Linked DNA regions of Homo sapiens. Changing the gene in region 2 together with the main gene of any one other region gives a genetic interaction. Each region holds a gene or a part of one and is shown on either strand. Other genes may lie near its edges.

The links.
Region 1: of ESR1 (region 2) and TFF1, changing one enhances a phenotype caused by changing the other (phenotypic enhancement), as found in Homo sapiens cells (one study listed by BioGRID).

What each region holds. Positions count from the first base shown.
Region 1 is NC_000021.9:42,363,736-42,367,855, forward strand, and holds the start of TFF1 (trefoil factor 1 precursor), read right to left. Parts: upstream 2,801-4,120; 5' UTR 2,761-2,800; coding exon 2,676-2,760; intron 1,378-2,675; exon of another isoform or gene 1-1,377. UniProt on the Homo sapiens protein: Stabilizer of the mucous gel overlying the gastrointestinal mucosa that provides a physical barrier against various noxious agents. May inhibit the growth of calcium oxalate crystals in urine.
Region 2 is NC_000006.12:151,943,682-151,947,181, reverse strand, and holds part of ESR1 (estrogen receptor), read right to left. Parts: intron 3,010-3,500; coding exon 2,674-3,009; intron 1-2,673.

The sequences.
Region 1 (4,120 bases), on a different chromosome or scaffold from region 2:
TGGGAGCTAGCATGGCAAAAGCCAGGCACTGTGCCAGGTGAGAGAGACCCAGAAATTAAAACCAGAGAAGTCATTAATAAGAGTCTAAATATCTGGGCCCAGGCTCATGCCTGTAATCCCAGCACTTTGGGAGGCTGAAGGAGGTGAATCACTTGAGGTCAGGAGTTCAAGACCAGCCTGACCAAAATGGTGAAGCCCCATCTCTACTAAAAATACAAAAAATTAGGCGGGCATTGTGGCACACGTCTGTAATCCCAGCTACTTGGGAGGCTGAGGCAGGAGAATCACTTGAACCCAGGAGGCAGAGGTTGTAGTGAGCCAAGATCGCACCATTGCACTCCAGCCTGAGTGACAGAGCAAGACTCCATCTCAAAAAAAAAAAAAAAAGAGTCTAAGGATCTGATGGAGGAGAAAGGCAAGAACATGTGCGAGACAACGCAAGGCCATCGTCCCAGGGTGCCCAGGGTAACCACGGGGGTAGGGCACTCCCCGGAGAGGCCAATGACAAGCAGGTTGAACAAAGCAGGGGGGCTCCCTGCAGGAGGAGGTTCACCAGGTGAAGATGGAGCCGCATGGGCAAAGGCCATTCCAGAGACCCAGGTGTGTTCAGGAGGTGGAAACCCATTGCAGGTAAGGTGAGAGGACCGGGTGGGGTGGTCTAGGAGGAGCCGACAGAGGGTACAAGCTGTGAAACAGCTTGAAGCAGGGCAGTGAGGAAAGGGATCTAGAGGAGGAAGACACGTGGACAGATGGGGCTGGCTGGGGGCTGCCGCAGGATCTTATGCAAGAGGTTCTAACACCAGAGCTTCAGGCTCTGAGCTCCGCGGAATCAAAGGTCTCAGAAAGCAACCTATTAGGATCTGGTGGTTGACAGCCTGCAGCAGGGGGTGAAAGAGGAGCCCAGAGCACCCTCCGGTCCCTGTCCCTGCCTTGGGGCATAGGAGGGGAGGAACTCAGTCTGGCCACACTGGCTCAGGTGAGGGCGCCCCAGGGGAGGCCGAGAGGGGCTGTTCTCTTGTCTGCTTTGCTATCAGGGACTGCCTCGAGATGTCTTTGGAGAAAGTGTTCCTGGCTTGCTGGGAAGGATCCGTGTTCAGCTCCCGCTGCCCAGCAGCTTCCATGGGAACCTTGCCCTCCTGGGGTCTGGATCCATCGCGACGTGAAGGTGATCATCGCCCACCCCCGGGACACTGTGGGGGTCAAGAGAGGCCCCGTGGTGAGGGAGGATCATCATCCTGGGGGTCGGGGGGGTTTCCTCCTCAGGGAGGAAGATTTCCAGCCCCGGTGCTCTGCCTCCGGCAGACTCTGTCTTGCCCACCCGCTTTGTCTTTGTCGCATGATGGAAATAAATGGAAATGGTTTCCACACACGAATGCACTAAACTGTAATCACAATTTTCTAGATTTCAGTTGTAACAGGATCATGGACCTGAGTGACCCGCAAAGACGCTCTGAGCCTTGAGCCAGAGGGTGTGTGGGGTGGGGAGGGGAGTTTGCCACGGCCTCTGTGATCCCACAGCACAGGGGGCAGAGCTGGGGGCTGGGGTGGGGGCAAGGGCGCAGGCAGATGGGCCTGGGGGTGGCCAGCACGGGGACCCACCCAGTTCGTTCTGTACACCGAGGCCACTTCCTCTCTCGGGTTCCAAAGCTCCCCCGCTCCCTGCCATGGGCTTGGGGGTCTTCCCACTGCAGCCCAATGCTGGCTGCTCTTCTACGCTGCCCAAGCCCACCCCTCAGGCCCGGTACCCCACAGCAGAGATCAAGAGGTGGCTGGAGGGCAGTGGGGGCACGGACAGCACCACTGGGCGCTCCCTCTTCAGGCCTCTCTGGAAACCCTTGCTTTGGAAACGTAGAAAGCCCTTTCTCCTGCCCCCACCTTGAAACTGTACCTAATAACGGCAAATAAGTTATTCAGCTCCCCACAGCTGGCAAAGTGCAAGTCGCAGATGCTGCCACACAGCATTTCCTGACAGCCCTAGGGCAGACCGTTGATCCATTCTGCAGGTAAAGGAGTTGAGATGCAAACACTTCCCAAGGAAGCAAGAATGGCCTCCTCCTCCACTCCCTAGAAGGACCCAGGGCAACCGATCCACTTGACAACACCAGGGAATATGGGTTGCCAGCCACGCACTCATGAGAGAGGTGGCTTTGACTCCCAGAGCATGGATCCCAGGGGAGCCCAGGAACCTGTAGGAGAGGGTCTCCCAGTTGGCCACCACTGGGACGGGCATTCGGGCCTGTGGGAGAGGGTCTCCCAGGTGGCCATCACTGGGACCGGCATTTGGGCCTATCTGGATGGGCCTTGGGAGGGTCTGCCCCTGGGGGAGATGTTGGCATGAACAGTCAAAAGCACTATTCTGAGACCCCACGCCAACACTTCCTCTTTGAAACATGACACTTGGGAGGATTGTATAGTCTTCCTAACACAGGAAAACAGCCCCGACTGAAGGCAGCCCCCTCCTCGTCGCACTTCTCGAAGGTCTCCGGGGGCCCTGCCACCCTGAGTTACTCTCCACCTGCTTTTGCCGATCCTGTAAATTGGATATACTTTTAAGGGCCTAGAACAGCACCTGGCACAAAACAGGTGCTCAAAAATATGTATGTAAAACAGTGGCTCCTGGCGGAGGCTGCCAGAGCTGGCTGTGGCCCCACAGAGCAGGAAGAAGCACGCCTTACCTGTCTGGGCCTCGGCCAGGGTGCCGAGGGCCAGCATGGACACCAGGACCAGGGCGCAGATCACCTTGTTCTCCATGGTGGCCATTGCCTCCTCTCTGCTCCAAAGGCGACCCCGAGTCAGGGATGAGAGGCCGCCCGAGCCCCGGATTTTATAGGGCAGGCTCTGTTTGCTTAAAGAGCGTTAGATAACATTTGCCTAAGGAGGCCCGGGGATCCTCTGAGACAATAATCTCCACTGATTTTTATCAAAGGTGTTTCCTAGACATGGTCAAGCTACATGGAAGGATTTGCTGATAGACAGAGACGACATGTGGTGAGGTCATCTTGGCTGAGGGATCTGAGATTCAGAAAGTCCCTCTTTCCCATGGGAGTCTCCTCCAACCTGACCTTAATCCAGGTCCTACTCATATCTGAGAGGCCCTCCCGCCAGGGTAAATACTGTACTCACTGCAGAAGTGATTCATAGTGAGAGATGGCCGGAAAAAGGCTTGGCCGTGACAACAGTGGCTCACGGGGTGGCCACCGTGACCTTGCAGGGGGAAGGGAAGGAGCTCATGAAGCCCATTCCGTCTAGGCCTAAGCTAATTCTTTTACAGTGGAATTGTTTTAATAATGAAATTGTAGGCCTGGCGCAGTGGCTCACGCCTGTAATCCCAACACTTTGGGAGGCCAAAGCAGGCGGATCACTTAAAGTCAGGAGTTTGAGACTAGCCTGGCCAACATGGCGAAACCCCGTCTCTACAAAAAAAAAAAATACAAAAATTAGCCAGGCATGGTGGCGGGTGCCTGTAATCCTAGCTACTCTGGAGGTTAAGTCAGGAGAATCACTTGAACCTGGGAGGCGGAGGTTGCAGTGAGTCGAGATCACCCTACTGCACTCCAGCCTGAGCGACAGATTAAGTCTCCTTCTGGGAGGGGCTGGGGGCAGGAGGGAGAAAAAAATAGTATATACGAGCTGCCATCAAAAACTGACAAAGTGAACGTGGTTCACTCCCCTGTGTCTATGGGGCTCCCTCCCTCCCCCTCCCACACCTTCCCAGTTGGTCCCCTGGACTCCTGTATTTTAGAGGACAGCCTCCTGCTCTCCTGTACCATGCCTCACTCCCCTCCCCTGCTCGGAGCTTTCTCTTTCATAGCTCTTATTACCTCCTGGTGGATAAAACAAGTGACTGACACATTATGTTGGTTATTTATTCATTGCACTCCTCCCTGCAGCAGACGGGAGGGCGCATGGGAGCAGAAGTCCTCATCTCCTAGTGCCTTGAGGTGGCCCCAGACCCTAGAACAGTGGCTTTGATTGGCATTCGAGAAACAGCTGTTGAAGAGCTGCATGAAGAAATGGACAACAGGAGAAATCTTTTCTTCTTCAGTGAGAAATTAGGCCCTGAGGAAAATGCATGCTAGCCTAACAAAGGTACTATCTTTTCTTGGGTGACCTAGTCAGT
Region 2 (3,500 bases):
AAGCCTGGCTAATTTTTGTACTGTTTTGTAGAGACAGGGTTTTGTCATGTTGGCCAGGCTGGTCTTGAACTCCTGACCTCAGGTGATCCACCCGCCTCGGCCTCCCAAAGTGCTGGGATTACAGGCATGAGCCACTGTGCCCGGCTTATTTCCTCTTTTAAAACTTACTATTATTATTGTCATTCTCAAACTATTATCTCATAAACGTTATATTGTCTATATCAGATATTCAGTGTGGGCTATGTTTTTTAAATAACAGATGGTATTTGAATATATAAAAGATATAAATCCTTTTCAAAATGTTGCTTTGTCTATTTTTCTGAAAAGTTTGACAACCATCTGTAGAGCTTTTGCAGAAGACTTTTTTCTTCCCTCACTTTTAGTCTCTTTAAAATCAATGACTATTTTTATTCTGCTTGGTCAGGCAAGTAGGCCTTTGATTTACAACAGCTGTATTCCCATGGAACACACACAAACACACATACATATAATTTCATTTTTGCCTTTATAATTCTTTTTTTTAATTATCAAGTAAGAAGACATAGTTTATTGGTCTAAGGATTTTGGAATCATTCAGGTCTTTTAAACGAACATGATGAAGTTACAGAGTGGTTTTGTTACACATCTCATTGCCATAATTTTGTCTAGCTCTGGCTTTAATAATTGTATTTTAACTATTGCTAGCCTGTGTATAATATTTTCCTTTCCTTGACTTCTCCATTTTATTCCTAAATTCAGAAGATTATTGATGTGAATTCTTCAACCACTGGTAATGTATTTGAGCTTAATTCCAGTTGTTTAAAATGCTCTTCAACATTATTATAAAAATGTCATGATGGGAATCTACTGATACACATGAAAATGTCTGTACTTGAGTTCAGCAGTGCTCCAGAGCTAATATTCCCAAGATTTCATAAGGGAAAATATATGTTTACAGGAAAATAAAACTGAACAGCAACCAAGAGTTGGCTCTCAAATATATGACCATTAGTTTCTTTGCTTGTTTGTTTGTTTCTCTTTCCCTATAATATAAGAACAAGGCAATAACAAATATAAAGAAAAAACTTACAGCCATATTACAATTAGATTCCAACAATTAACTTATAATGTATCTGCTTCATATGAAAATGCTAAAATATGTAGGTACTCAAGAAAACTTTTCATTCTGAAGATGACCAGAAATTTTTGTTTGCCAGTTCGACTGACACTGAAAACCTACATTTGCCTATTATTCTCCATGCTTCCATGTAAACTAATAACCACTCAACCACCAAAATGGTGGCCTCTAACAAGGCTGGGTTCTGGTACTGCTGGCTCCTTATTCTACGGCCCACATGTTTATATACTGATAGATGCAAATACATGTAAGATTCTCTAAGGCCAGACATAAGTTCACTTGGCCTATAACAGAGCAGTGACCCTTGAAATGCAAGTACAAACTCCACATTTTTTTAGTTTCATATAAAACATTTCATGCTTCATAGGAAACAATTAATTTCATCTATTAAAAGAAACCAAATGAGAAAACCTCCAACTAAATCTATCACTCATTTAACCTATAAGCCCAGAAAAAAAATTTAGCTTCTTCTTGCCTCGGTTTATCTACATTAGCTCCTGAACGAATACACTGGGGCAGGGAGAAAGTCATTTTCTAGTCTTGTTGCCATACAAACTTGAGTTCTTCTCCCTGAATAACAGGAGTAACAGTCCAATTTTACCAGAACACCAGTTCTGAGAGAATCAACTGAAGGAACAAGGTATCACTTCAGCCACTGTGTCTTTCTAAAAGTTTCTTTCAGGGATGATACCTTAATTTATTTTTCCATTGCCTTTCTCTTTCTCCTAAAACACTAAGCATACACCAGGTTGGATAAATAATTGGCATTCAGTAAATACACTTATTATTATCTTTTTAATCCATAAAGATCTTTCTCTTTTTTTGTGTGGTTTATTTTTTATGACACGGTCTTGCTCTGTCACCTGGGCTGGAGTGCAGTGGCACTCCACACAAACATGGTTCACTGTAGCTTTGACCTCCTGGACTCAAGCCATCCTCTCACCTCGGCCTCCCCCATAACTGGGACCACAGGTGTGTGCCACTGCATCCAGCTAATTTTTAAAAATTTGTTGTAGAGACAGGGTTTCGCCACGTTGCCCCGGATGGCCTCAAGCTCCTGGGCTCAAGCAATCCTCCCACCTCAGCCCCAAAAAGTGCTAGGATTACAGGCACGAGCCACCACACCGAATCTTAAAAATCTTTTTAAGATAAAATCGTTTGATTAATAATTGAGATGTTTTCAACAAAGGTCATTAATATTACAAACTTTTGTAGTTCATTTAGTGTTAAAAGTTTCTGCTACTGTGAACATACACTATTAAATAGTTTTACCATGTAGTGTCCACCCTAAATCTTTTTGGTAAATGAGATGGGTTAAAAATAAATTATGTCAATTTAAGAATTTCAGTCTTCTAGATTCTGATTTAAAAATATTATTTCCTAATCTCCTGGAAAATTACAGTGTATTGATACTGAAAATGAACACATCTCCTGTAACCTTGAAACCAATTACATAACATGTTATTGCTTCTTTTTCCCCCACTATTTCTCCCATGACATCACAACAAGTTCTTGAAAAGCTATTGACTCTTAAAAGCTGCGCTTCGCATTCTTACCTGGCACCCTCTTCGCCCAGTTGATCATGTGAACCAGCTCCCTGTCTGCCAGGTTGGTCAGTAAGCCCATCATCGAAGCTTCACTGAAGGGTCTGGTAGGATCATACTCGGAATAGAGTATCGGGGGCTCAGCATCCAACAAGGCACTGACCATCTGGTCGGCCGTCAGGGACAAGGCCAGGCTGTTCTTCTTAGAGCGTTTGATCATGAGCGGGCTTGGCCAAAGGTTGGCAGCTCTCATGTCTCCAGCAGACCCCACTTCACCCCTGCCCTCCCCATCATCTCTCTGGCGCTTGTGTTTCAACATTCTCCCTCCTCTTCGGTCTTTTCGTATCCCTGAAAACACAGGTGGAAAAAAAAATTAGTTTATTTTTTTCCCGTGTAAACTTTTATACAAAAAATTTTCAAAGCTAACCAGCTTTCATTTTATTTGAAGAAATACTTTCAAGCACAGGTGAGCTGGTAAGTGTTCAACAAGTGGCTCTCCAAGAGAAGAAGAAAAAGATTTCTATTTGTAGCAGTTTTCATGGTGTAAATACTACCACCATAACATGCCAATTTTCATGGTGTAAATACCACCACCATAACAAACTTCAGGCCACTTGTCTGACATCAAATGGCTTACAAAACTCCTGAAAATTGAACAGTAGGCTTTGGTGAGCCCATACAAACTGATTCCGACACACTAGGTAGGGGTGTGTGTGTAACAGGTGTTATAAAAAGAACAGAATTCTAATTTTAGTTATTCTTAAAATAGAATTTAGCATCCAAGACTACTTCTGCTAGGAATATTCTTTTAATAGTAAATTAAAAGGGCATTTTTAAAA